Homo sapiens: one gene and its partners. The protein of the gene in region 1 interacts with the protein of each later gene in a pairwise test. Each region holds a gene or a part of one and is shown in the gene's direction. Other genes may lie near its edges.

Region 1 (3,954 bases):
ACTTACAGACCATACATAGCACCATTCATAGTCAAGAGAAATGTAAACAAACATGAAGATGCAGTGTTAAATCATAACTCCATTAAATTAACTGTAGTACAGATTATACTACTGTAATAATTTCATAGCTGCTTCCTGTTGCTATTCGGCAAGCTCAAGTGTTTTCAGTATCTGCTTAAAATACCATGTGATACTGTCGTCTCCATGTGAGCAGTTCCTCTCTCTGGTAAATTGCATATCACGGTGAAAAGTGGTCTCTTATGGTTCTTGTGTATTTTTCCTTGTGTTTAATGCAATGCTGCAAACCTCGAATAACACCATGGGACCTATACAAAGAGCAACTAATGATGATGGACACGCTGCCAAGAAGCAGAGAAAAGTCATGACCCTACAAGAAAAAGTTGAATTGATTGATATGTACTGTAGATTAAGGTCTGTACCTGTAGTTGCAGGCCATTTCAGACATTCAATTCATCTTGTAAACAGATGATGTAAACTTATGGTATCGATAAAATACCGTACAGTACTGTAAAAGTATTTTCTCTTCCTTATTATTTTCTTAATACCATTTTCTTTTTTTCAGCTTACTTTAGTGTAAGACTATAGTATAGAATACATATAACATACAAAATATGTTAATCAACTATTTATGATATAGGGTAAGGCTTCCAGTCAACAGTAGGCTATTAGTTGTTAAGTTTTTGGGGAGTCAAAACTTAACATGCATGGAGGATCGAAGCCCCTAATCCCTGTGTTATTCAAGGTCAAAGGCCTTTAACCTGTGTCTTGTCTGTTAGACATTCTTAGTCAAATAGTCCAACACCGAGTGAAGAATTTGGATCCCTGCTCTGCCAGTCACTACCTATTGGAGCAAGACACGTCTTCTTTATTGATAAATTTTTATTTATTTCCAATAAGCCTTTTGCATTCCTACTTCATCTTCTCATGTTTACTCAATCTTCTCATTCCTGCAGTGAGGATGACATATAGCTCTCACCTCATCTAAATGGGATAAGTTTAAGCTTTACTGTGATTTGTTTCCAACAATTATGTTATTTATTCTAGGAAGAAGAAATGAAAATGCCTGCAAAGGAGCTCCTAAAACCTGTACCTTACTAGAAAAGTTCCCCGAGACAACAGGATGCAGAAGAGGACAGGTACCAAGAGTGTCGTGCTGGGGAGAATACAATTAATTGTTAGGAATAAGGGCGTGTTGACCTTTACAAAGAAATGGTTGTTTCCTTTGGCCCAATGAATGCCTCTTTTTACATGCCCTTTTTACTGAAACATAATTTTATGTGGTTGACGTCAGAATTGAGGGTGGAAAATGTTCAGTGTTTATAGCTTTGTGGAAAATGTGAGTGCTTATTTTTAGTTCCTTCACAAAGAAATAAGACTTGAATATAAATATTAAATCTTACAAAGGCTCTAATCCAAACTGACAGTAATTTTGTACTGTCACCTTAACTTAGCAGTTCCTCCACACCTTGATAAATGGCTGAATGGAGTGTCATGTTTTCTATGCAGATCAAATATTCCATCATGCACCCCGGGACTCACGTGTGGCCGCACACAGGGCCCACAAACTGCAGGCTCCGAATGCACCTGGGCTTGGTGATTCCCAAGGAAGGCTGCAAGATTCGATGTGCCAACGAGACCAAGTATGGGTCCTCTGTTATCCGTCATATCCGTCACCTCAGAGGATGAGAGTTTGTTACAACACAGTTGTGTTCCTTTGGATTACTTATCTTCTTTTGTAGCTGAAGTAGACTGGAGCAAAGTGATATTAATCCAAACTCTTAAGTCTATATCCCTTCTTGGTGCTTTCTATTAGCCTGGAGACATTGCCCAGCTCTAGGGCTGCCCTCCTCCATTATTTCTCGGCAGAGTACTTATCTAGTTGAGGAGCTGCCTTGTTTCTCTCTCTGGGTAGACAGATGTGCATTCAGAGTCAGCCAACATGCATTGAGCCCTGCAGATGTTATGCATTGTGCTTCCTGCTTTGCAACTTGACTTATTCATGACTACAAGAAGTACCCCTAACTGAAGAACTCACCCCATGATATTTATACGTTTTGATATAGAGGAGATGGTATGGTGCAATGGAAGCTGGCTGCCTTTTTCAAATCCCAGCTCTAACACCTAACCTGTGTAACCTTGGCTAGTTACTTAATCCCTTCAAACATCAGCCTTCTTGCTTATAAAATTGGCAGTGATAACATCTACTTTGCAGGGTTGTTGTATGGATTAACTGGAATAATGCCTATAAGGTGCTCAGTCCATGTTCTGGTATCAGTCGGGACGTGATGAATGTTAGATCTCCTCTCCCTCCCTTGCGTGTTACTTTCCTAATCCTGACATGTTTATTCATGATCTTTTGAACAAACCATACTTGCTCTGGCTTCTGTACCTATGATGCTGATAATCTCTGTCCCTAGAATGCCCGTCTTTTCACCTGTCCAAAATAAACCTATTACTAAGATCCAATTTAGTTTTATAAAAATAGAACCTCTCAGAGTATATATCCTCAGTAATCCCATTCCTATCTTCTATTACTCTTTATTCATTAATATATATTACCCTTATCTCCATAGCAAGCTGTATGTAAGCTCCTGGAGATCAGAAAGCAAGTTATTGTTGTCTTACACATTTCTTATTGTTCTTAGTAGAGGTCTGAGTGGAGGATGAGTGTTCAGGGGTCTGCAGAATTGTCTATTTGATTATTGGCAGATAACTGCCCTGGGCAGCCCATGGTGCTGTGGGAAATTCAGAGATGACTCAGAAGGGGCCGTCCTCTTCTGAGGACACCTAGCAAGGTGTGTCTGCTCAGGAAGATAACACAAGATTGAAGGCCACCGTGGTCATAGAAGAGGTACTACAGATGGCCTCTCTACAGATAAGCTAAAAATACTACAGATGGCTCCATGAGCAGGAGCCTCACCTGCTCACAGACACTCAACTTGCAGAGTGGTGGTTTTTAAAGACAAGAAGGATTCGGACATTGAAAGCTAAAGAGGGGTATTCTGGAACAGTATCCATTAAAGGCACAGAGGCCAAAAATTATGGCCACATATGAAGAATATTGAATAATAATTCAGCAGCCAGCAGTGTATGGTACATAAAGAATAAGGTTGCAAAGTGAAAGAGTCTTTTAGAAACTAAATCATAGGAGGCTTTGAATCCCAAACTAATGGGATCAGACCTTTGTTAGGAAGTTACTGTGGAACCCATGGGTGAATCCTATGGGGACAGTGGGAAGAACAATTAGCAGGCTGTCACAGCAGCCCACCCAAAAGATAAACAGAGCTGGAATTGGGATGCTGGAAAGAAATGGAGACTAGAGAGCAGATGCAAGAGGTGACTCTTGAATGTGTGATACAGGAATGGGGCATCCAAGATGCTGCTGCAATTGCAGTCTTTGGACAGTGGAGGGTGGCGATGCTTGAGCAAACCTTGGGAATTTGGGAGGCATGAGGCAAGTTCAAGGAAAGGAAGATGAATTTAGTGCTTATGTATTTTATTTAGTTGCTATTGGAACACACTTGTAGAACCATCCAGGAGGTGGCTGGAAATAGAGACCTGGCACTCAGGGGAGAAGGTAAGTCTAGAGATAAAGATTTGAGAGTCAGACTTATCAGGAACTTCTAGAGGAAGCTTGAGACAATCGAAGGATGACAGAAATGAAAAGGTTCCATGAAAACATCTGTATTTAGAAGACGGAAGGAGGAAGGAGAACCAAGAAGGAAATGGGGCAAGAAAGGCAAAATCGGGTAGACCAGGAGGAGGAATCAGGGATCACTGGACAGGCAGAAGTTTCTTCAGGCATGGAATGAATCTTGTCTTACACTGGGAACTCGGTTTGGGTCTTCAGGGTCTCTCTGCCAAAGTGAAAAGGAGCAGGGACACATTGGAGGATGCAAGGAATTCAGAGAGGAGGTTGGAGAATGCTGGAGC
Region 2 (3,954 bases), on another chromosome or scaffold:
TGAAATCCCTCCAAAGACTTGTGGAGTCACCCTCGGCGTCCCTCACTCACCGTGCTGCGTGTGGCCACCCTACCTGTGTGTTCTTGCGTGACTCTCGAGCTTGGGGCCACTCTGGGCAGAGGCACAGTGGTCTTCTCCATTAGATCGCTCAGAGCCTGCACATGGATCCCTGATTCAGATACCAGTTTGCTCATTTTCCACATGGCTAATGTATTTTATCTGTTGGTAAAATGCTCCCAAAGAGTGTTCCACTCATCTTCCAAATGTATTTAGGAAACCATCGCCATGGCTGCTGAGCTAGCGAGCACCGAGAAAACTGCAGTTTCACATTCCATCAAGACCTGTGACCTCGATGGGGCAGCAAAGTGAGAAAACATTCTTGAGTTGCCGTGCGGCCTCTGCAGTAGACGCTGGCACTCTGGCTGTCGGTCCGGGCTAGATAGATGTTCTGAAAAATGACATAGCATTTAATTTGGTTAAGGGCAAGACAGTCACTCTGTGACCATACAGGCTCTGCTGTGCTCTCTGCAGACATGGAGCAGCATCAGATGGCACTTCAGCCTCCCCGCAGCCCCCAAAGAAAGTGCTGTTGTCACAAAGAGAGCACAGTTATGCACAAAGAAAGTCTGTTTGCTGATTACCTTTTTTTGAGACAGGATCTTGCTCTCTTGCCCAGGCTGGAGTACAGTGGCACTATCATGGCTCACTGCAGCCTTGAACTCCTGGGCTTAAGTGATCTCCTTACCTCAGCCTTCCGAGTAGCTGGGAGCACACCACCATGCCTGGTTTAAAAAATTTTTTTTAGAGATAGTGTCTTGCTCTGTCATCCAGGCTGGTCTCAAACTCCTGGGCTCAGGCAATCCTCCCTCCTCGCCCTCCCAACTTGCTGAGACTACAGGTGTGAGCCCCCAAGCCTGGCTCTGCTGCTTGTCTTTTAAAGAAATTCATCTCCATGAGCCATAGAAAGCTGTTTCCCTTTCTAACCTACAGCCTTCCGGATACCCTTCTATGTTCACACTCACTAGGCCACACCCCACTGATGGAGCTGATTCCCTAATCTCAATGTCACCTGCAGCCTGAATGTAATTCTTCTTTATTGCGTTCAGCCCACCTCTGCCCTGGAGCTGCCATGACAACTTGTTTGTTTGCCTTTCCCTTTCAGATTTCAAATCCAACTTCAGAGCTGCTCCTATCAGGTCGGTGGACGTCTACAATGTCATGTGCAATGTGGTGGGCATCACCCCGCTGCCCAACAACGGATCCTGGTCCAGGGTGATGTGCATGCTGAAGGGCCGCGCCAGCACTGCCCCGCCTGTCTGGCCCAGCCACTGTGCCCTGGCACTGATTCTTCTCTTCCTGCTTGCATAACTGATCATATTGCTTGTCTCAGAAAAAAACACCATCAGCAAAGTGGGCCTCCAAAGCCAGATGATTTTCATTTTATGTGTGAATAATAGCTTCATTAACACAATCAAGACCATGCACATTGTAAATACATTATTCTTGGATAATTCTATACATAAAAGTTCCTACTTGTTAAAAAAGATACAAACCTTGTTTTTCCAGAAGGTAGGAAAATCCTAGCTTTCCATTTGTGCAGTTATATGTCATTTTCTCCTTTCTTTTCACGTTACTCAGGATGAACTCTCTGAGCAGGGACCTGCTCCTGCAGCAACCAAACTTGGAGTGGTTATTGCAGACAGACGTGGCTCTGGGCCCCTCTCTGTCCCACCTTGCACAAAGGACCCCCTCAGACCAGGCCCTTGTCTGTGCCCTGTCCACACCCAGGAGCCATCCTCAGTGTCTGTGGCCACAATCCTGTACTGTTCCTTCCATCCCTGATAAAAGGAGGTCTACATGAAAGCAAAAGCTACTGTCTATTTCTGACCCAGCTCATGGAATTTTTTCATCTTATACTGAGCTCCAGAAAGGACGTAACTTAGCATGGATCACCAATCAATCAAAAAATAAATAAATCACTAAGGATTGGAGAACTCATAGAACAAGGTGAAAGACATGAGTGCCCTCCCAAAGTCTGAGTGCACGAAAATTTCTCTCTTGCCTTGAGGAGCAGAAAAGCTTCTGATGGACATGGGCTTCTGTGAGACTTATCACACATAGTGTATCGTGGCATGAAGCCCGGCACATAGCAGGCCCTGCATATTGATGGACAAATGGATGGCCTGCCTGCCTTCCCTGTCCGTTCACCTGTGCAAAGGCTTCCTCAGACATGCCACTCTGTGGCTCCCAATATAGGGTGCAGACAAGAGCAATCCCTGACATGACATTATAGCCTGGGAAAGGGCTGGCTCACTGATGAGAATGTGGAGGCATCAGCAAGGATCTCGGTGGGTTGCTCAGAGAGGTGATGCACTAAGCCTTAATCCTGGACACCAGTACCCCTGCAGCATGGCTTGCTCAACAACAGTCTTTGAGTGGCATAGAATTCCAAAGAAAATGGTGCTGGGTGGAGAATGGAGAGAGCATGATGGAGCAGAGTCCCAGTCACTGACCAACTAACTGGTCGTTTGATTAGGAAACAGTTTGGCCAAAGTACCACCTTTGAGACCTAAGTTCTTTTGATACCTTTGAGAAGAGCCACTGAGCCTGAGTTGAAATATTTTTAGCTTAGTCATCTGTGTTTGCTATAGGAGAAATTGTAACACAAGAAATAACTCCTTTTTACATGATCATTTATATCTATATACATATATATACTTGCATACACTATCACTGCATTAAAAAATGAGTTTGGGCTGGGCATGGTGGCTCACACCTATAATCCCAACACTTTCGGAGGCCAAGGAGGGACAAACGAACCCTTGAGGCCAGGAGTTCCAGACTAACTTGGGCAACACAGGGCGACCCCCATCTCTACAAAACATAAAAGATTTTTAAAAAATTAGCCAGGCATGGTGGCACATGCCTGTGGTCTCAGCTACTTGGGAGGCTGAGGCAGGAGAATCATTTGAGCCCAGGAGGTCAAGGCTGCAGTGAGCTTTGATCACACCACTGCACTCCAGCCTGGGCAACAGAGCAAGACCCCATCCTCCACCCCCCCCAAAAAATAGAAAGAAAAAAAAAGTTTGCACTAATTGAGGTACATCTGCAAGTGAGACTTTTTGTCAGGAAAAGGCAATATATCAGGTCTCCTCAGGACGATGGAGGCCTTATATGGTGTGTTACCTTGAAAACTGAATATCAACGTTCACCTTGATTCAGGAAAGCTGGGTGCTGTCTCCATGCCATGAATCATGAGAGCAAAGGATCACTGCTTAAAAATACTGAATTTACCTTCACAAAAGATTTCTAAAGATTTATGTAATGTGTTTTAAAAGCGCCAGTAAACCATCGGATCAATTGGAAAGAAGGCAACTCTTCAGCCTTTGTTATCTAGCTGAAAACAAATGACAACTTTCAAAACATTGGCAGTAGTTGTTGAAAAAGACGTCTATTGTTCAAAGTTTCTTTCTCCTTAAAGGACGGTGTTCCAATGAATTCAGTAGAGCCCACTTTCCTCCACTGTGGAGGAAGAATCCCTAAGAGATACTCAAATGATTAAATTAAAATTGGATCATCAAACTCAAGAGAGGCATAAACTTAGACACAGTCTTGCATTTTTGTCTTTCCTGAACTCTTCTGCCATTTTCCTCCTTCACTCGTCCTGAAAATCTGCAAGTTACATAATAAAACTTTAGATATTTGTCTGACAAAGTGTAATTACTCAACTGAATAAATGACTGAGAACAAGTTACAAAAGGAATCATGAATCCTGGTAAACAATAAAGAAGATTCAGACACTGAGGGAAAAAAATAAAGCTTTTTACTTAAATAATGCATATATTTTTTATGGCTTAATTATTTGGTGAAAATTTGTTCCCTTTTATTTTTGTTTTAAAATTACATTGTTCTCCTTAGGAAAATTCCACTTTCTCTAAATGTATTTTTTTCCAT
Region 3 (4,730 bases), on another chromosome or scaffold:
AACGAATGAACATCTGTTCATATACACTATAGCTCTGCAGACACCATGATTATCTTGTTCTCCATTGTACCCTCAGCACCCAGTCCAGTGCTTAGGCTGTAGTAGTAAGACAGTAATGATTTATTAATTGATTGAAAGAGGGCGTCCCAAGAAAGGGACTTGCGTCTATGTTGCGACGACATCTTTATTGCAAGGGCAAGAAGCACATCCCAGACCTTTTTGAAAACATCAGGGATGGAGGTGGGAGGCAAGGCAAGATGGAGGAAATTTCTAGGAGTACAGATATTTAGCTGTCATGGTGGGTTTCCCTCTTCAACTATCGTTTCAGTTTTCTAGGGTTTTTTTTTTTTTTTATGGAGTTTCTCTCGTTTCCCAGGTTGAAGTGCAATGGCATGATCTCGGCTCACTGCAACCTTCGCCTCCCAGGTTCAAGCGATTCTCCTACCCCAGCCTCCGACTAGCTGAGATTACAGGCGCCCGCCACCTCGCCCAGCTAATTTTTGTATTTTTAGTAGAGACGGTGTTTCACCATGTTGGCCAAGCTGGTCTCGAACTCCTGACCTCAAGTGATCTACCTGGCTCCGCCTCCCAAAGTGCCGGGATTACAGGCATGAGCCACCGTGCCCGGCCTTCTAGGGATTCTTAACCTGGGGCTCATAGGTGGGGCTTCAAAAGATCCATGAATCCTCCGACTCTTTAATCAAGCACCCGTGTCAGTAGCTGTATGTGCATTTTTCTGGAAGAGGATCATGGCTTTCAATGAGTGTCAAAAGGCTGAGACTGCTCGAGACCTCACCGTCCAATACGGTAGCCATTAGTCCCGTGTGGCTCTTTAAGTTTAGATTTAAATTAAAATTTCAGTGCCTCACTTACACTAAGCTACACATCAAGTGCTCAACAGCCACTACCTACAGGCCAGACCAGATAGAGGGCATTTCCATCATTGCAGAAAGTTTGATGGGACAGATATCTGTATTGGTAGCATTACCAACTGAATACAGGTAAGATTGGATCCAACTAGTGCTTTTGTAAAATGAGTTACCAACATTTAGAAATAAAACATAAAAATCTAAAATCCTGATTGATTTCATTTGGGAAACAGGACTATCTATCAGCGTGGGGCCTGCGTTCCCCTGGCAGCTGGAACGCACAGTACCGCTCCCTTTAGAGGGACTCTTGGTCATATAGAAGTTCCCCGCTTGACCCTCCTTGACGACTGACAGTACGACCCTCGTTTCTAGGGGACTTCGCCCGTCTTGGTCTCCTTCCAGGCTCGCGTTTGTAACCAGACTCCAAATTTTACTAAATGGGGTTGAATTGGGTTTGAGAGCACATCTTAGAGCAGGGTCTAGGGCTGAGATTCGGGGTCTCAGTTGGAAGTTGAGGAAGGGCAACGTCTCCTTCCTTACAGTTTTCCCGGAACTGTAGGAAGTCAGAGGGAATTTTATCCTGCACATCTGTTGCTTGACAAAGAACTTCCCAATCCTCCTCCGAGCCCTCCAGTCCCTAGCCCAGTTCGCCCGGGCCCGCCCCTAGCAACAAGATCGCGGGGAGGGGCCGAGGCGAAACACGAGCCCCGCGCCCACCACCCCAGCTGGCGACGTGGCTCCGCGGCCCCGGCTTCCCCCGGCAGCTCAGCGACCAATGGGCGCGCGAGCGGGGCCGCCCGCAGCTTCCCAGCCCGAGGCCCAGGCGCGCCCCTCTGCTCCGGCTCGGGGCGGGCACTGGCGGAGGGACTGGCCAGTCCCCTCCTCCGCGCCGGCCCCAACCCTGTCGCTGCCGCCGCGCTCCGAGTCCCCATTCCCGAGCTGCCGCTGTTGTCGCTCGCTCAGCGTCTCCCTCTCGGCCGCCCTCTCCTCGGGACGATGGCGCGCGGTGGCCGCGGCCGCCGCCTGGGGTTAGCCCTGGGGCTGCTGCTGGCGCTGGTGCTGGCGCCGCGGGTTCTGCGGGCCAAGCCCACGGTGCGCAAAGAGCGCGTGGTGCGGCCCGACTCGGAGCTGGGCGAGCGGCCCCCTGAGGACAACCAGAGCTTCCAGTACGACCACGAGGCCTTCCTGGGCAAGGAGGACTCCAAGACCTTCGACCAGCTCACCCCGGACGAGAGCAAGGAGAGGCTAGGGTGAGGCCGCGGCCAGGGCCCCGTGGGGGGCGGCGCAGGTGTCCGAGGGCCGCCTGGGCGAGAGCCACGCGGGATACCACCGCCAAAGCGAAAGCGAAATCGCGCGCGCGGCCTCGAGGATGGGGCCCTGCCCAACTCGGCGCTGGGGCTCAGGCTAACTTGCTGGAGGGCCCCGGGACCCCAGCTTGGAGATCGCCGCCGCCGCGCCCCGGCCGGGGTGGTTTCTCGCGGGGAGGCGAGAACGTGGCAGCGGCCGCGGGAGCCAGGACGGCGAGGGCCCGCCCCCTCCCCCAGGTTGCATCAGAAGGGAGGGGAGAGTGCACAAAAGAAGAGTTTGTCCACAGTGGCCTGTTAGTGCCATGAGTTCCTCCCCACTCTCTCGCAGTTTCTCTCTGATCCCCCACTCCCGGGGAGAAGGGCTTGAGACACTCGCTAAGAAAATCTCAGGGATGAACATAAATGGATAAAAGATGAAGGGGCAGGCGAGCGACAGGCTTGCTTCCTGGTCTCGGCCGCAGTGGTCTTGCCTTTTGCCTAATCGCCCTGTAAATCTATCGTAAGGAGTCTGGGCGCGGTGACTCACGCCTGTAATCCCAGCACTTTGGGAGGCCGAGGCGGGGGGAGGGGTGGGGAGATCACCTGAGGTCAGGAGTTCGAGACCAGCCTGACCAAACGGCGAAATCCCGTCTCTACTAAAAATACAAAAATTAGCCGGGCGTCGTGGCACACGCCTGTAATCCCAGCTACTTGGGAGGCTGAGGCAGGGGAATCGCTTGAACCCGGGAGGCGGAGGTAGCAGTGGGCCGAGATTGCGCCACTGCACTCCAGCCGGGGCTAGAGTGAGACTCCATCTCAAAAATAATAAAAATAAAAATAAAATAAAATCTAGTGTAGGGATACAAAAATCCGGTTGAAAAGGGACACGCAGTTTCCGATTGGAAACACGAGGGAGCAGGAATGGAAACGGTTCGCCTGAAACGTTTCTGTTGGCAGCAGATGTCTGCAGAAGCACTCAGTTCTTTGGCAACTGATTTGTTTGGGGGGCAAAAAGCTGGAGGGTTCTCTTGGTGGTGGAGGATTTTGACTTGGGCTGTTAAAGGCAGTTGAGTCAGGAACCAAACCCGGGAAACAAAACTTCGGCGCATTTTAGTACACCCTCCCCGGGTCCCCTGAGGAAACACTTGGGCACTGTGCGGAGGTATCTGGTGGTCCTTGCACAGAGGACCCAGCAGGCAGCCTGGTCCCAGATGGAGGCAGGGCTGGGGAAGAAACCAGCAGTCCTGCCTATTGGGCACCAGGTCTCAGATCTCCCTGAACCTGATTCCTGGGGGTGGAGGATCTTCATGTTCTGCCACATGAAAGAGAACACAGCCATCCCTGTGCTCCTGGGGGCCTCCAAAGGCCAAAGTGTTTCATTGGAATATGAGGATAAATTATACCTATTGTGTAGGTGCACCATTTGCCTGCTCTGATAAAAAGACCTTTGAACTTCAAAGTCACCTCCAAACAATTACCTTTTATCTTGCAGAGTACTTTCTCTTCTCAGTTAGGACTTAACAATAGGGGCCATTGATGAGTTCAGTCTATTGTATTGCTTTGAGGCACTTGGAGACTGATTTATCCTGGAGCCCTGAGTGGCAGCCACATTGTCACTGGAGAGGAGGCAGGGAGAGGTTTTGGGATTTGGAAAACTTTATAAGGTGTGGTCATGCAGCTTCCAGTTAATGCCTTCATTGTGACAGTTCAGCCTAGTAGTGAGAAAAAGTGACGGTGAAGTTGGTCTGGATTTGATCCTTGTATCAACACCTTGACTTCATTCATTTATTCATGCAACAAACATTTGAATGGCTACTGTGTACCAGGCCCCAGTTTAGATAACTGGCAGGTACAAAGATGAAACCTTATGCTCTGGGCGTCGAAGTGCTTGTAAGCAAATGTGGAGGAGAGAAGCACAGACAAACTAGCCATTATGCACAATTGCTGCAATGATGGCCTATAAAACCTACTGTGAGCACATTCAGGAGAAGGAGCCGCCAAGGCTGCAGGTTAGAGAGAGGGGATTGGGGCTGTCACCTGATCAGAGTTTGTAGGATGACTTGGAGGTTGCCAGGTGTACAGCAGGGGAAGGCCTTCCTGAAGAGAAAACAGCCCATTTCTAAAGGGTTTGAAAAGCGTTCTGGGGCATGAGGGGTGGTGAGTCTGCAAAGGGGCAGGGAAGGGAAGTGAGAGGTGAGAATGGAGGGGAAACCAAGGGCAGAGCAGGAAGGACCTTGGTGAGATGGACATGAGATGTTATCCTGTACATTGTCAAAATGTCATAATCCCCAAAACTCATTGGGAAAGTCAGGCTGGCAGGAGGGCAGTACACAGAGAACATAATCAAGGCACAGACTAGACCAGTGGCAGGGAGAGGAGGTGAATGCCAAAGGGGCTTGGTCTCTCCGGATTCCAGGAGGGGATGAATCTAGACACCAGTGGGAGGCAGAACTGGCAGCTCTTGCTCTTGACTCAATGAGGGGGAGAAGAGAGAGGTAGGAATCAAGGGGACATCCGGGTCTCTGGCCTTAGCCACCAGATGGGTGATGGATGCACCATTCACTTGTAGGTTAAA
Region 4 (3,898 bases), about 35 Mb from region 1:
CAGTCTCCGTTTGTTTCATGTATAGCAGCAAAAATATAAATGAAGTCAAAAGACTGAATTTAAAAAAAAATTAGCAATTACAGAATATTATTTCCAGGACTTTGCATTTTAATTTGAAAACTGCAACTGTTTCCTGGGATTTAGAAGTAGTGATTTGGGTTTAAAGTCTCCCTTTAAAGGAAGAAAGGAAAACTGCCTACAGTTAGTGAATTCTTAAGTTTTATACTTAGCTCTGGGGGTAAAAAAGAGGTTCTCAGGAACTAAGGCTCAAAACTGCCTATGAAAAGGAACTGGTAGCTGTTCCTTTATGGATCCTGGAGGCAGCTGGGAAAGCCTGTTCCTAGTGATCCATTCATACTTTCCACTGGCAGGTTAGGACTTTGGCTGCGGAGCACCAGGCAAGGGGAAAATCTGACTGAGTGTGGCAGTAGTGATATGCTGCTGGTTTTCTGTCCATTTTGTACATGACTGTTTATCTTTAGAAATAATATATTGCAGACTGCTATAAACACATAATTTGAACTGGAAATATGTTTAAGAAAAGGAAGTGTTTTGAACTAGAGGAATTTTATAAACATTCTTAGATGTCTGTAAATTAAAAGAAACTGTCAAGTCATTTGGGCCCATGCATTATCTCTCGGTGTATTATGAAAGGCAGGCTCTGGAAAGTTTGCATTAGAAGGGTAACTAAAATCGAAATCATGTAACTTTGCAGTTCTTTAGAAAATATAGTTTGGCTGTTTTATGAGTGAAACAAATTGCTTTTGCTAGGGAATTTTATAAAAACAAGGGCTCTTTCTCTCTTAGTTGGGTATTAGCAGAAGGAGGATGTCATTTAAGAAGGAAAGATCTTGAAAGATCAGGCTTGCAGAAAATGGATGTCTGAGAAGCAATTTGAGCATGCCCTTCAGCTTCTGCTTTTAGGACCTGATATGTCTAGTTTTGATGGTAACCACCCTTCGAGGGGTAGCCTACCCTGTGTAATATGATCACTTAAATGGCGCCTTGGATAATCATTAGTTTGGAAAGGATTTCAAAAGGTGAACTGGTTTGTTCCCTGGGTGGAACTAGTTTTCAAGTCTCCAAAAGCCCCCAGAGACCTGACTGGCCAGCTAGAGGTGGCTTGGAGTCTCCTTAGGTTGGCAAGGCCCCTGAAGCTGACCCAGTCACACAGAGCCCCACCAGCCCTGTCATTAAGGTTTATAGCAAGTCCAGTCAAGCCACTGTGCTGTTGGCATACCTGCTGGTGGGGATCCAGTTGTCCTGTGAGGAATGCCATCTGGGTTTAGATTCTCACTAGATTGTCCTTCTTCCATTGCCAAAAATCAAACTAAAAGATTTTGCCCATCCTTTTCTTCTTCCCAAGGCAGAAGGGTGCATTGCAGAATCTCCAAACCACTGAATTCTTTTCGTGGACTAGAGGCCAAAATAAAGTCTTAGAGAAAAGCCAGAAGTAATGAAGAAGAATCTTTGCTAAAACCAATCTACTCTTATTTAACTTTTTTAGTCAACTGTGACAGTACTATCATTTTCATTCTAATCATTTGGATTTAAATCTTGAAGAAGCCCTGGACTCATTCATCTTTGTTGGTTTCCACGTCCAGTCTGCCTCTAAGTCCAGCTGTGCATTCATTCTGCAGATATTTATTTCATACCTACTAGGTGCTTGAGGTAAAGCAGTGAGCAAACCAGGCAGATATCCCCCTGCCTTCTTGGAGCTTGCATTCTAGTGATCTTTCCGTTCATTTTTTCATGCCTTCAGTGGCCAGCGTGGAACTTCCTCAGGAGTGCCAACCGGCCCCAGAATGCCCTGGCCCATGGGAACCTGCACTTAAAGATGCAGCACCAACAGGTGTTTACCCAGCTCCTGACCTGAGCTCAGCACTGCAAAGAAGTCGGGGTTTGGAAATGTGGTCCCTTCCTGCAGCGCTAATCTTTTTTTTTTTTCCTCTTGAGATGGAGTCTCACTCTGTCACCCAGGCTGGAGTACAATGGCACTCTGCAACCACCACCTCACTGCAGCCACCTCACTGCAACCACCACCTCCCAGGTTCAAGCGATTCTCCTGCCTCAGCCTCCCGAGTAGCTGGGACTACAGGCACATGCCACTGCACCTGGCTAAATTTTGTATTTTTAGTAGGGATGGGGTTTCAACGTGTTGGCCAGGCTGGTCTCCAACTCCTGACCTCAGCTGATCCACCGCCTCGGCCACCCAAAGTGCTGGGATTATAGACGTGAGCCACTATGCCTGGCCATTGGTCTCTTCCTGCAGCACTAATCTTGATGGGACAGAAAATTTCAAATGAAGAGCTTTCCCTCTTTTTTTCTTCCTTGGGGGCATGCCAGCTTGTGCTTCTATGTCAGTAGCCTTGTAGTTGCCATTCCTGGCCCAGACACTTGCATGCAGTTTGGTTTGTCCTCCACCACTTTGATCATGTTGCCCATGGTCTAGACACCTCCGTGTCCTTGTTATCATGGCATATAGTCTGTATGCCTCTGCTGGATTTATAAGCGGCCCCATAATAGCCTTCCTTTCTGGTTACCCCCTTGATCACTTTCCACCACATCTCCCAGCCCTGGCCCATTGATATCACTATCATGAACACTCCCTGGACATTGCTACTTTTTCAGTGTTTCTCCTTTTAAATGCTATTGATTAAATGCAAGCTCCAAATACCTTTTCATGGCTGATCCAGCCCTGTTGTTTTTAATCCTTCTGTAAATAGCAAGGCATACTGATGATCAGAATCATTGAAAGTATGTGAAAATACAGATTTCAGGCCTCCTCTCAGACTTACACAATCAGAAACCTGAATGGGGGTGGGAGTGTGGGGGAAACTGTATTTTTATAAAGCGACTGAGATGATTCTAATGAATCAGACTAATTTGGGAATCGCTGGTCTAGATCACAGCATTACCCCTTAATTATGTGCTATTCTATGTTACTACTAGAGTTTTCAGCAGTAGCTGGGCTTAGAATACAAAGGGCTTGGGCTTGGGAGGTGGACAAGTCTGGGTTCAGATGCTGGTACCTTGCCACTTAATGTGTCAGAACTTGGACAGTATATTAAAGCTCTGAGTCACTTAAAAAAGTGTGTGTGTGTAAATTGGACCTAAGAATGCCTTTATAACATGACTGTTGTGAAGATGAAATGAAGGGAGCATATGAATGGTGCTTGAGGCACGGAAGATAGGACATTTTTTTTTCTTCCTTTCCTCTCTTGGCCTTTTTTTTTTTGGCAATGAAATGAATGAAATGAGGGAGCCATGTCAGATGTTCTTACCTCTCTGACATTCTAAATAGGTGAATTTTCTCTCCCATCAAGGTTAGTGCTATAGGAAGAAACCATGTTTCCAAATCTCCTACTCCTGTGCAGTGCTGAGCTGGGTAAACATCTGTTGACACTGCATGCTGAAGTGCAGATACCCGTGGGCCTGGACATTTTGGGGTTGGTTGGCACTCCTGAAGAAGTTTCACGCTGGCCACTGAAGGCATTATGGTTCAGGGTCAACTGAATACACCAGCCCCCAGTGGACCTGGGCTAGTTGTCCAGTTTTGATGCCTCTGCACTCAGTGTCATCAGCATTGCAGGGTTGGTGTCAAGAATAAAGAAGACATTGATGTAACGTCTTGACACATCAGCTGTGCACAGTCACACCTCCTCCTCTTCCCTGAGGCTGTGCTGAGATTCCAGCACATGGGAAGGAGAGAGTTAGAATTTAGTCTGTATCATGCGTTGGTATGCCGTTGGTCATTTAGAATGAGGTGGCAGGGGTAGTGAGTATATTTTGGGGATCTGGGGGCAGAAAAGGGATTATTTTTATTTTTTAAGTGTGGAAATGTGGCCTGGCGCGATATCTCATGCCTGTAATCCCAGCACTTTGGGAGGCCGAGGTG
Region 5 (4,718 bases), on another chromosome or scaffold:
ACCAAAGTCCTTACTCTAGACTGCACTAGATTTAGACCCTCACTGCTTCCATTATTTCATCTCCCATTTTGCCCTCTATCACTTTGCTCAAGCCAGAGTGTCCTCCTGGATGTTTCTCAAACATGTCAAACCAGCGTCAGCCTCAGAACCTTTGCGCTTACTATTCTCTCTGTCTGGAATGCACATCCTTGGAATAAATGCATAGTTCAAATCCTCATTTCCTTCATGTCTCTGTGTGATATCACCTGAAAAGCAAGACCTTCTCTGATTACGCTATGATACATATCTCCTTAACCCTCCAGCACCCTTATCCTTCTTGTCCTTTTCTCCATAATATTTATCTGATATATTTTATAATCACTTATTATTTTTTGTCACTTGCCTCCCTCAACAAAAAGGCAATGGAAGCTCCATGAAGACAGAGATTGTTATTTTTATTTACTGATCTGTCTTAAGAGATAAATACAGTTCTTGTCATGACTTGGGAAGGGTTTGAGATTTTATCCTACTTGGAAGCTAAGAAGTTAGCCTGCCACATTATAATGGTTTCTGGCAGAAGGCACAGACTCCTGGCTCAGAGAAAAGGGACTTAATTATTCCATAGCAACAGCCAGAGTATTGGAATTTGTTCTGGTTTCCCAAGCCCCAATTTCCACAGGCCAATTTAAGGGGCATCAAGTGATAGTTGCAGGGAAAGTACAGTGTGTTAAAGGAAAGAAAGGCCAAGCTTTTAAAAACCCGAAATCTTTTGTAAAGGGCAATTAACATGGTCTTTGCCCTAGAAGGAGATATTAACTTTATTACACTAAACAGTAAACAAACCTGCCTTTTGGTGCAGAGGGAGACATTACGTATTTTCTAAGGTCGTTTGTTATATAAACACCCTTAAAAAGATAGTCTGAAACAAAGGTTATCAGTACCTCTACTCATAAGACACACCAAAACATGAGAGAGGATGGAGAATTCTCTTCTAATAACACATGGTAGATATCCAGCACATATTCTCTTTTACCCAGCACATATTCTCAGATGAAAGAGTAACCCTTTGAATTAGGTGTTATTATTATTTTAATTTCCAGATGAATACACAGAAGCACAGCAAAAGTGGCTCCAACAAGCACCCTCTAGCTCCAGAATACACGCTTTAGGGAACTGAGTCCTCTCTCTCTCTTGCTTTCTCTTTCCCTCTCATCTGCCACTCCATCAGCTACTTTAGGTTTTGTGAATGAGTGAGGGAAAAATAGAGAAAAGAGAAAGAAGAATAAGAAAGGAAGAGTGGAGGAAAGGAAAAAAGAATGGAGAGGTTTTACCCTACTTGGAATAAAATTCTTTCTAGTAGCTATCCATACCTGCTCATCTATCCAGAACTACAGAGTAGAAGGGATCTTTGAGTTCATCTTACAGGTGAGAAAACAGGCTTGAGAAGGGAATGACTTTCCCACAACCACAGAGGGAGTTAGGGATCAAACTAACCACTAGAACTATTTTCCTGACAGAATCTTTGCCTTGCATGTTTCAGGCCCACCTGGCTCCTTTCACCTTTCTTACACAGGTGACATTCCCAGAACCTGGAGGCCAGGCTATGACACAGAGTCAATCAATAACCAGGGAGATCTGTGATATAGCCCAGTAGGTGGGGCCTTGCTGCCATCTGCCATATGACCCTTCCAGTCCCAGGCTTCTGAAGAGACGTGGTAAGTGCGGTGCAGTTTTCAACTGACCTCTGGACGCAGAACTTCAGCCATGAAGGTAACAGGCATCTTTCTTCTCAGTGCCTTGGCCCTGTTGAGTCTATCTGGTAAGTGTTGCATATTTTTCAAATTTAAATAAAACTGTTTTGACCTGTTGCTTTGTGAAGCACATTATCTTCTAGACTTTTGATGTAGTCTAGTCTTCGAGAGATGTTTTGGACCTAATGAGATGAAATAAAATCAACAGGTAAGAATTATTTTTTAAGAGGAATTTTTAACCTACTATAAGGAAAACAATTCTACTAGTAAGAAATTCCCAGAAATAAAATGGTTTTCCTCTATTGATGTGGCTGACCCTTTGTTGGGATATGGTAGAGAAAAAAGGGTAAAAATATTTTAACTTTAAGTATACTTCTCATTCTGTAAATGTGTAAGGCCAAATTACAAATTTTAAATTCTCATGGGATTGCATAAAATAGATAAATGGCTTCCAGTTATTCAGTATAAAAGGCATAATTTGACTGATTAAAAATTTATTTTTTTATTGTATAGGTTTCAGTGTACTTGAATCATGTATAGTTTGTCAGATTTATCCCTGAATAGCTAATATATGTGATATAAAGGGAATTTTTTATTTTCAATTCCTGGTATTTCTTATTAGTATCTGGAAATACAAAAATTGCATTTTGTGTATTTACATTACACATTTTGAATGTTTTGAAAGAAAATATTCTGCTTGAATAGATGGTGCACATATACCTCCAACTGCATCTTGACAATGTTGACAGACAACTCTGAACCCGCAGAGCCAAGATCAGTTTCCTTTTTATCACTGGAAATGGTTAACATTTTCAACTTCACCTCTCATGTAGTGAAGGATCCTGTGGAGAGCCAAATCAGCACTTTGCTAAGAAGAGGAAGAATATTGTTTGTTTTATTTGCTGAATATTTATGGCAACAGTCAGTGTTCCCTTTCCCCCTCCTCATGCATGTTAATTAATACAAATAGATGCCTGTGATGAGCACCTGCTCTTCAGTTTTTAGACTCAACTAGATTCTAAAAGCCAGTGGGCCCCCAACAACATCAAGTTCTGACTATCCCGGGGGAAATTCTCCAAGCTCATAGATGCCTCACTAATTTTCATTACATTTAGATACAAAGAACTACCTCTTTGCTCAGATCACCTCAAAGATTGATGATATTAAAATTAATTTTCAGGAATGTTTCCTTATTTGATTGCTATCATATTAGTTCCCTTTCCCTTCCATGAACTTATCCACAGTTATCATTTCCTATATGTTGTCAGCAAAACCTCTGCTATTTTCTGGGGGAATAGAGATTAGCTATTTTGACTACCTGTAAATTCAACAAATGTGAGTTAGACCCATAGTCCATATGATGCAATTGTTGGAAATAGCTCTTTGGGAACTGATAGTGAGTTGGCAAAAGAACTCTATTTTTTCAACAATACTTACAAAAGGGAATTTAAATGTAATTGAAAAAGCTAACTTTGCATCAGAAGACCTGGTTACTGCTTATGATAACTGTTTCACAGCTAGTTATAAAAACTCTCCATACTTTCATCTGTAAACTGAGATAAAAATTATACTTCACTAATTGTGAGATTAAAGATCTAGTAACTGGTTTTGAGAATGTTTGTGAGTATTCAAAAGATAATTTGCTCAGTGCCTGATTCATTTCCAGCAGTAAGTGCATAATTTCTGTTTTCAAGGAAATAGATCAACTTCCTAAAACATCAAATCGAGATACTTTGGTCATAATCAAAGTTTTACTCAAACTTTTTAAGGTTTTGCCAAGGAAGGGGTACAGGAAAATCAGTCAGATACTTTTGGAAGATTAGAGAAATCAGAAAGGGTGGGGAATGAAAGAGCCTAGTAAAGAAGTCACAGTCTGCAATGAAAGCAGAGAATTCTGATGAAGAATAGATCTGACTTCTTTCATTTAGGACCCAACTTACCATATCTGATTTATTTCTAGGTAACACTGGAGCTGACTCCCTGGGAAGAGAGGTAAAGAGATATTTGTAATTTCTTATTTCTCAGACTGGAACAGTTTGATCCAACAAAAATGCAGCCTTGCTGTCACCTTTCAGTTTAGCCTGAAGTTAAGAGGAGTATGAATGCTAGGGAGGGTTAACGTGAGAAATGCAAATGGTAGTAGTAGTTCCAACCCACAGGCGTATATTGAAGGACAATTTCACTGATGTATAAGCAAGTTCCATATAGTCCTACAGTGCTTGCTGTGAAGGGGTTTTTATATAGACTAGTGATAGCTGTAGACAAGTATTTGGGGTGGAAGCCTTCTCAACTTCACTCCAAGTAGCCCTTCCTCCTTACAGCCAGTTTGACCATGTTGGCATGCAGCTCTCCCAATCACCAAGGTGTGGCTCTAATTTATAATGAATGACAGAAAATAATAAACTAGGTTCTCCTTCTAGAAAAATATTCTAACTCTAACCTTTTCATATTTTTTTGTTTAAGAGGTAATTTCAGTAAATTTGGAGACCAGAGGAAGAAGTGTCCCTGTTCTCAGTACATTTATATCTAGTCAGAGACAGCTGATAGACCAAAAGTTCATGAATGAATGCAATATTACATTTGTGATAAGTGTTATGAAAAAGTTCTGCTGCCGTTAGGAACTTAGCCTAGTTAGAAAAATCAGGGAGGGTGCTCCGAAGTAACTGAGGGGTTATTTTGAGCCAAAAAAAAAAAATGAGTGTTAGTAAAACAAAACTGGTGGGGAGATGTAGTAGAATAAAGTACTTAAGAGCTAAAGCTCAGGAACTCTGACTAGGTTTGAATTCTGAATTTAGGAATTCCTTAGCTGGGTGGCCTTGGCTAATTTTATTGCTTTGTGCCTCATTATCTTCACCTGAAGAAGAATATAATACTTAGTTCACAGGATAGTTAGGAGGTTTAAACAGAATAATATATAAAAAGCACTAGAACAATGTCTAGGACAATGACAATCATTTGATGATTATAAACTCTTACTGGAGTAGAATG
Region 6 (3,954 bases), on another chromosome or scaffold:
GTTTCTCCTAAGTGCTGCGATTGTGCCTGAGTTATAAACTGTTCTTCTCTTCCAAATCAGATGCTCCTTAGTAGGTCAGCCTCAACAAGGAGGTTGTGTGTAAATAAATCTAGAACATCTGAAAAATGGTCAATTGGTGGTAAAATGAAGTTGAGTAAACTTCCATTACTCTGTACTTGAGGCCAGGTGCAGTGGCTCACACCTGTAATCCCATCACTTTGAGAGGCCAAGGTAGAAGGATTGCTTGAGCCCAAGAGTTTGAGACCAGCCTGGACAACATGGCAGAACTCCATCTCTATAAAAAAAAATACAAAAAATTGACTGAGGATGGTGGCACATACCTGTGGTACCCCAGCTACTTGGGAGGCTGAGGTGGGAAGATTGCCTGAACCAGGGGAGGTCAAGGTCACAGTGAGCCGTGATCCTGTCACTGCACTCCAGCCTGGGCTACAGAGTGAGACCCTGTCTCAAAAAAAAAAAAATTGTATTCCACTGATTTTCATTGTGGGAATATAACTGCCAATGTTTACCTGAAACTTTTATGAAGAAAGAAATGGCTCAACAAATTAGTAATTTTCATATAGGCTTCTGGGTTATATCTAAGTGACTGGGCCCAAGGGAGCAGACTGATTGGAAGGACAGATCACGTCAGTGTCCAGCTTTGGTGGGGCCTCCACTGCCCCCAGGCATACTCAGTGCTCTTTGGTTCTGGGTCTCACACTGTCCCTCCTGCCTCTCCCGCAACTCCCTCCCTAACCTGCTTTCTTCTTTCCTTCCTTCAGCTCCATGTTGTATCTTAATTATGGAGACTAAGGCTCTTGCTGTTATTATATGGGCTGGGACATGTTTGCTTCTTATGTTAATATTTAAGTTACAGCATGTGTACAAAAGAAAAAAATCCTGGTTATACACTATTACTATTTTACTAATGCGGAAAATTGAGGCTTAGCAAGGTTAAATAATCTGCCCAGAGTTCACATTGGTTCAGTGGCAGAACTGAGGCTTCAACCCAGAGTGTTTTGACTTGGGAGCTTATCACCACTAGTCTGTATTATGTAAAGGTGAAATAAGCCCGCACAGTTATATTCCTTCTAAACAAGTCATCCTGCCCTAATTGTGAACATCCTGGTGTGTTTGTTAGATCATATACTCCCTTGTGCCAGCTTACCAAACCAATTGCCTACTGTAAGTTGATCTTTTTTGAGGGACAGGGATGGGCATTCTGAAGAGTTGGAAATTTTTTCTGTCAAATAAGTTGACACAGTGTGCTTTGTCCATGAATTAGAGTTTTCTGGTCTGGTTTGTTTAGACAGGAACTTAACTAGTGGAATAATTGTGCCATTGGTAGATCCATATTATAATTGAAAGCAACTCAGATTGCAGAAAAGGAGTGCCCCCCAGCCATGACCCATAAGCAAAGAGGTCAGAAACAAATGAAAAAGCCAAAAGTTTCAAGTATCAGAAATCTCCGTAGGTCACACGCAACTTCCTCATTTATTTCTGTCTATTCTGAGATGGTAATTGTATGAGAAAGCCCTCTATTAATAATAAATTCAGGTTTTTTGACTTCTTTCTCTTGTAGCCTTTCTACCAGGTTTGGCACCGTAGCTGTTCCTAATATTTTATTATTTCAAGGAGCTAAACCAATGGCCAGATTTAATCATACAGATCGAACACTGGAAACACTGAAAATCTTCATTTTTAATCAGACAGGTATGTGGAAGTAATGTGCTGAGGAAGAAGATATTCTATTGCTGGGGGTCTGTGCCTTCTGTGGGTTCTGATCTGCTATAATCCTTAAGTGAAGGATTCAAGACTGACTTTGAGTTGTAAAACTTCTCTTCTAATGAACTGTTATGATCCTGTTAAATACTTCCCAATCAGTATGAAGTTTAACATGAATAGGTAATTTTAATTATTATAGATACTTTTTTTTTCCCTTTTTTTTTTTTTTTTGAGTCTTGCTCTGTCGCCCAGGCTGGGGTGCAGTGGTGCGATCTTGGCTCACTGCAACCTCCACCTCCCGGGTTCACGCCATTCTCCTGCCTCAGCCTCCCGAGTAGCTGGGACTACAGGCGCCCGCCACCATACCCGGCTAATTTTTTGTATTTTTAATAGAGACGGGGTTTCACCGTGTTAGCCAGGATGGTCTCGATCTCCTGACCTCGTGATCCACCCACCTCGGCCTCCCAAAGTGCTGGGATTACAGGCGTGAGCCACCGCACCCAGCCTTTTTTTCCTTTTTTTTGAGGCAGAGTCTCACTCTGTTGCCCAGGCTGGAGTGCAGTGGCATGATCTCAGTTCACTTCAGCCTCCGCCTCCTAGGTTCAAGTGATTTGCGTGCCTCAGCCTCCAGAGTAGTTGGGATTACAGGCGTGTGCCCAGCTAATTTTTGTATTTTTAGTAGAGACAGGGTTTCGCCTTATTGGCCAGGCTGGTCTCGATCTCCTGGCCTCAAGTGATCCACCCGCCTCGGCCTCCCAAAGTGCTGGGATTTTACAGGTGTGAGCCACTGTGCCCGGTCTATTATAGATACTTTATTGTTTGATTGACTGAGACGGAGTCTCGCTCTGTCACCCAGACTGGAGTGCAATGGCATAATCTCAGTTCACTGCAACCTCTGCCTCCTGGGTTAAAACGATTCTCCTGCCTCAGCCTTTCTAGTAGCTGGGATTATAGGTGCGCACCACCACACCTGGCTAATTTTTGTATTTTTTAGTAGAGACAGGGTTTCGCCCTGTTGGCCAGGCTGGTCTTGCACTCCTAACCTCAAGTGATCTGCCTGCCTTGGCCTCCCAGAGTGCTCAGATTACAGGTGTGAGCCACCGTGCCTGGCCTATTATAGATACTTTAAAACAAGTGTTACTGAAATATAATTCACATACCATACACTTTACTTATAACTTTTAACGCACATTTTTCACTTAATATTTACACAAAGATATGCATAAGTCATGAGTGTACAGGGTGATGAATTTTCACAAAGTGAACACCCTGGGTAACCACTCTGATCAAGAAACAGAGCACTGGCTTATGCCTGTAAACCCAGGAGTTTGGGAAGCCTGTGCGGGTGGATCTCTTGAGGCCAGGAGTTCGAGACCAGCCTGGCCAACATGGCGAAACCCTGTCTCTACTAAAAATACAAAAACTAGCTGGGGATGGTGGTGGGTGCTTGTAGTCGCAGCTACTCGGGAGGCTGAGGCATGAAAATTGCTTGAGCCCAGGAGGCAGAGGCTGCAGTGAGCTGAGATCACAGTACTGCATTCCAGCCTGGTTGACAGAGTGAGACTCCGTCTCAAAAAAAAAAGAAAAAAAAAAAGAGAAACAGAACATTACCAGCCTCCCTTCAGCACCACTGCTCCTGCCTTCCCCAAAGATAAAGATAACCACAGTCTTGACTCCTAATATCATAGACTGTGTTACTTGTTTTGGACTTCATATTAATGGAGACATGCAGGATGTTTTATTTTGTGTCTGTTTTTTTCATCCAACAGTATGCTTGTGAGATGCACCTGCATTGTCATGTATGGTTATGTTTTGTTCTTTTTCTTTGCTGCTACTGTTCCATTTATTAATCCATTTGTAGATGCTATCTTAGTTCCTTAATATTTGCCAAAACATATGGCCTTATTTTTTATTGTTTGTAAAACATTGTAAAGCATTGTAAATTGAAAAAATTACCTCCATTGGAAAAGTTCATTCCTCTAAAGCCTCACTGTCTCAATTGTGAGCATCCCACTCTTCCCAAAGTATGCTCACTGGAAATAAATAAAAATTATAACACACATTGCATATATATTAAATTGCATATAATCATTTTAGCTAACACTAAAGAAAAAAGAGCTGAGTTGGCTGATAGGAGTAAAAGTAGGATATTACAAGGTGGTTAGCTAGTCCAAGTCTTGTCATGGATCCCTGATTGTCATTTCGATTGATGTGTGGAGAGGGAGCCAT
Region 7 (3,265 bases), on another chromosome or scaffold:
TCTGGGCAGCAACTCCAGTTGTCACCTTCTGCCCCTACAGCAGGGGATGTGGACAAAGGGCCCCTCTTCTGGCTTCAAACCCCAAGCTGGCTTAGGGGAGAGAGGCATGGGTACGCTCATGACTCTTGATGCCTGTGCAGGCATGAGGAGGGGGCAGGCTTCCCTTCCCTGGGGTCAGATGGACAGGCCTCAAGACACCCAGGTGGTCCTAGGTGGATGATGTGGGTCCAGATGAGCCCACATGACCCCAGGTGGACGAGGTGGGTCCAGATGAGCCCCCGTGACCCCAGGTGGAGGAGGTGGGCCCGGATGACACCCACGTGGTCCCAAGTGGAACAGGTGATCCCAGATGAACCCATGTGACCCAGGTGGAGGAGGGCCCGGATGACACCCCTTGATACTCACCTGGGCCTTGAAGGCCAGAGGTGACTCCATGTGCTAGTGGCTCAGCTGCACTGTCTGTGCTGACAGTGGTGTCCTCAGCCGGGACTATGCCTGGGGACGGGCCCTGTTCCCTGGCCCATGTCAAGGCCACACAGTCTTGCACACCTGGGATGGATCGGGAGGAAGGAGGCCCACGCCTTCCTTGACTGGAGACGCAGGAGCATGGGCACAGCCCCCCCACGGTGCTGGTCCTCCCCTGGAGCCACTGGTCCTCCCCTGGGGTCACCTGCTTTGCTCTCCTGTCTGTCCTTTGCCCCACTGAGGATGGCTGGGCTCAGAGCAGCTGACAACTAAGGTTGGCTGGGCTCAGAGCAGCTGACAACTAAGGTTAGCTGGGCTCAGAGCGGCTGACCGCGTTCTCTCGGCACCAGCCAGGAAGGGGTGGTGCAGACACAGACCCAACCAGTCACTGCAGAAAACAGCCAGTGCATTGACGGCCAGGGTTGGGAGTGCTAGGTCAGGGATACGGTGCCAGGTTACATCCCAGTCCTGTGCTGCCCCAGACCCGGCCAGAATTCCAGGCCAGCTGGTCATCTGGGCACAGGCCGGCAACCTCAATCCCGGCTTGCAATCCCAACACCCGAGAGTGGCTTGCCCACTAGAGACGCTCGAGCTGTGCTGAGCTGGCCCTGCCCCCACCCCCTGCAGCCACCTCCACCCCATGCAGCCCCAGGTGGGCCTCGGAGCAACCTCTCCCCAGGTGTCCTCCACCCGCGTGGACTGTGGCCCAGCCCACACCTGTGACTCTCCCCCAGGTCCCTATCAAGATGCAAGTCAAACACTGGCCCTCAGAGCAGGACCCAGAGAAGTAAGTCCCCCCAACCCCACCTCCCCACCACCCATTCCCTGAAGCTACAGCCCGTTCTGCTGGGCCCTTCCTGAACCTGGAGAGCACGGGGCAGATGCAGAGAGGAGCCCTGTCCAGCAGCTTTTGGAAGGAGGGGGCACTCCAGCCTCATGGGCATCTGTCAACAGCGCCCCATGCAGGGAGAAGAGAGCACAGCCGGAGGGCTTGGGGCTCCACGGTGTCTCCCTACTCAGCTTCCCCACAGCCTCCAGGGCAGCTTGTGCTCCACGGCTGGTGGCTGTAGCTGGGGCGGCTCAGTCTTGGATCCTGAGGTTCCCCACATCCTTGCCCTTGGGACACTGCTCAACCAAGGCTCTGACCACTGCTCCCCACGCAGCCACCCAGGGACGTGGTGTGGAAGCCTGGCCGGGAGCACTGGGGGCCACTCATCACTGGCTCTTGAGAGAGAGGCTTGTCCTGGGGCTGCTGGTGGTGGGGCTGGAGTGGCTGCCCTGGGATGGTGGGCACCCTCCTGCGGGGGGTTCTGTCCACCTCCCCCACCTGCATGTGGACCTGACCAAACTGTGCCAGCAGGGCCTGGGGCGCCCGTGTGGTGGAGCCTCCGGAGAAGGACGACCAGCTGGTGGTGCTGTTCCCTGTCCAGAAGCCGAAACTCTTGACCACCGAGGAGAAGCCACGAGGTCAGGGCAGGGGCCCCATCCTTCCAGGTGGGCACAAGGTCACAGCAGCAGAGTCCGCTCGTGGGGTTGACTTGGACAGACCAAGGGTCTCGGGAAAGAAACTGAGACTATACCTTCATGTGCTTGTCCCTAGGCACCAAGGCCTGGATGGAGACCGAGGACACCCTGGGCCATGTCCTGAGTCCCGAGCCCGACCATGACAGCCTGTACCACCCTCCGCCTGAGGAGGACCAGGGCGAGGAGAGGCCCCGGTTGTGGGTGATGCCAAATCACCAGGTGCTCCTGGGACCGGAGGAAGACCAAGACCACATCTACCACCCCCAGTAGGGCTCCAGGGGCCATCACTGCCCCCGCCCTGTCCCAAGGCCCAGGCTGTTGGGACTGGGACCCTCCCTACCCTGCCCCAGCTAGACAAATAAACCCCAGCAGGCCGGGCGCGGTGGCTCACCTCTGTAATCCCAGCACTTTTAGAGGCCGAGGCAGGCGGATCACCTGAAATCAGGAGTTCCAGACCAGCCTGGGCAACATGGTGAAACCCCGTCTCTACTAAAAATACAAAAATTAGCCGGGTATGGTGCCGGGTGCCTGTAATCCCAGCTACTTGAGAGGCTGAGGCAGGAGAATCGCTTGAATCTGGGAGGCGGAGGTTGCATTGAGCTGAGATCGTGCCATTGCACTCCAGGCTGGGCGACAGAGCAAGACTCCATCTCAATCGATCAATCAATCAATCAATCAACCCCTGCAAACAGGTGGGAGGCCACATGCCCCAGAAGACCGATGACCGGGGCCCAGCCTGCCCTGCCTAGGAGAATCAAGGGCTGCACAAGGCCCAGGTGACCCTTGGCTCCCAGAAGGTTGCACTACCCCCAGGCCCTCCTCCTTGTATACCGGGATGGTGAGGGGTGTGGCAGCAGTTAGGGGATGGGACCAGAGGGCACCCTGGGACCAGTCTCAGCTGAGAAACAGAACCCACCCTGGGCTCCCTACAGCAGGAGCCTGAGACAGGGTCGGGGAGGAGGGTGGCCGAGTGCCTGGGGCTCAGGGCCCAGCTGAACGGACGTGCATGTGCTCAGGTGGAAAGTGCACAGGTCTCAGGTGAGGGCGGGTAGACCCAGGCCCAGGACATGGCCTTTCTGCCCTCCTGACGTTCTGTGCAGCTCCCACTCTGGGTGCCCATCCTGTCCTCCTGGCCCAGCAGGCCCAATGCTGCAGCGCAGGTCCAGGCTGCTGGAGTCACTCACACACCGCATGTGTCCTGGGCACATGCAAATGTGGGCGGGGTTCCTGCGTGGCAGTCTCATCCCTATGGTGAGAGAGAAGCACCTGGTGCCAA

What was found.
Region 2: the proteins of ASPH (region 1) and ENPP6 interact in binary tests that used the Homo sapiens proteins (3 or more experiments, as listed by UniProt).
Region 3: the proteins of ASPH (region 1) and RCN1 interact in binary tests that used the Homo sapiens proteins (3 or more experiments, as listed by UniProt).
Region 4: the proteins of ASPH (region 1) and SDC2 interact in binary tests that used the Homo sapiens proteins (3 or more experiments, as listed by UniProt).
Region 5: the proteins of ASPH (region 1) and SPINK1 interact in binary tests that used the Homo sapiens proteins (3 or more experiments, as listed by UniProt).
Region 6: the proteins of ASPH (region 1) and TXNDC15 interact in binary tests that used the Homo sapiens proteins (3 or more experiments, as listed by UniProt).
Region 7: the proteins of ASPH (region 1) and PRAP1 interact in binary tests that used the Homo sapiens proteins (3 or more experiments, as listed by UniProt).

The regions. Positions count from the first base shown.
Region 1 is NC_000008.11:61,515,235-61,519,188, reverse strand, and holds part of ASPH (aspartyl/asparaginyl beta-hydroxylase), read left to right. Parts: intron 1-1,065; coding exon 1,066-1,157; intron 1,158-1,527; coding exon 1,528-1,661; intron 1,662-3,954.
Region 2 is NC_000004.12:184,088,591-184,092,544, reverse strand, and holds the end of ENPP6 (glycerophosphocholine cholinephosphodiesterase ENPP6 precursor), read left to right. Parts: exon of another isoform or gene 1-448; intron 449-1,162; coding exon 1,163-1,368; 3' UTR 1,369-3,839; downstream 3,840-3,954. UniProt on the Homo sapiens protein: Choline-specific glycerophosphodiesterase that hydrolyzes glycerophosphocholine (GPC) and lysophosphatidylcholine (LPC) and contributes to supplying choline to the cells.
Region 3 is NC_000011.10:32,089,332-32,094,061, forward strand, and holds the start of RCN1 (reticulocalbin-1 precursor), read left to right. Parts: upstream 1-1,742; 5' UTR 1,743-1,865; coding exon 1,866-2,119; intron 2,120-4,730. UniProt on the Homo sapiens protein: May regulate calcium-dependent activities in the endoplasmic reticulum lumen or post-ER compartment.
Region 4 is NC_000008.11:96,496,536-96,500,433, forward strand, and holds part of SDC2 (syndecan-2 precursor), read left to right. Parts: intron 1-3,898. UniProt on the Homo sapiens protein: Cell surface proteoglycan which regulates dendritic arbor morphogenesis.
Region 5 is NC_000005.10:147,828,603-147,833,320, reverse strand, and holds the start of SPINK1 (serine protease inhibitor Kazal-type 1 precursor), read left to right. Parts: upstream 1-1,649; 5' UTR 1,650-1,743; coding exon 1,744-1,798; exon of another isoform or gene 1,799-1,912; intron 1,913-2,450; exon of another isoform or gene 2,451-2,816; intron 2,817-3,690; coding exon 3,691-3,722; intron 3,723-4,718. UniProt on the Homo sapiens protein: Serine protease inhibitor which exhibits anti-trypsin activity. In the pancreas, protects against trypsin-catalyzed premature activation of zymogens.
Region 6 is NC_000005.10:134,894,712-134,898,665, forward strand, and holds part of TXNDC15 (thioredoxin domain-containing protein 15 isoform 1 precursor), read left to right. Parts: intron 1-1,582; coding exon 1,583-1,713; intron 1,714-3,954. UniProt on the Homo sapiens protein: Acts as a positive regulator of ciliary hedgehog signaling. Involved in ciliogenesis.
Region 7 is NC_000010.11:133,350,182-133,353,446, forward strand, and holds the end of PRAP1 (proline-rich acidic protein 1 isoform 1 precursor), read left to right. Parts: intron 1-1,199; coding exon 1,200-1,252; intron 1,253-1,825; coding exon 1,826-1,959; intron 1,960-2,065; coding exon 2,066-2,259; 3' UTR 2,260-2,502; downstream 2,503-3,265. Other genes in the region: ZNF511-PRAP1 readthrough, read left to right, coding at 1,200-1,252, 1,826-1,959, 2,066-2,259. UniProt on the Homo sapiens protein: Lipid-binding protein which promotes lipid absorption by facilitating MTTP-mediated lipid transfer (mainly triglycerides and phospholipids) and MTTP-mediated apoB lipoprotein assembly and secretion.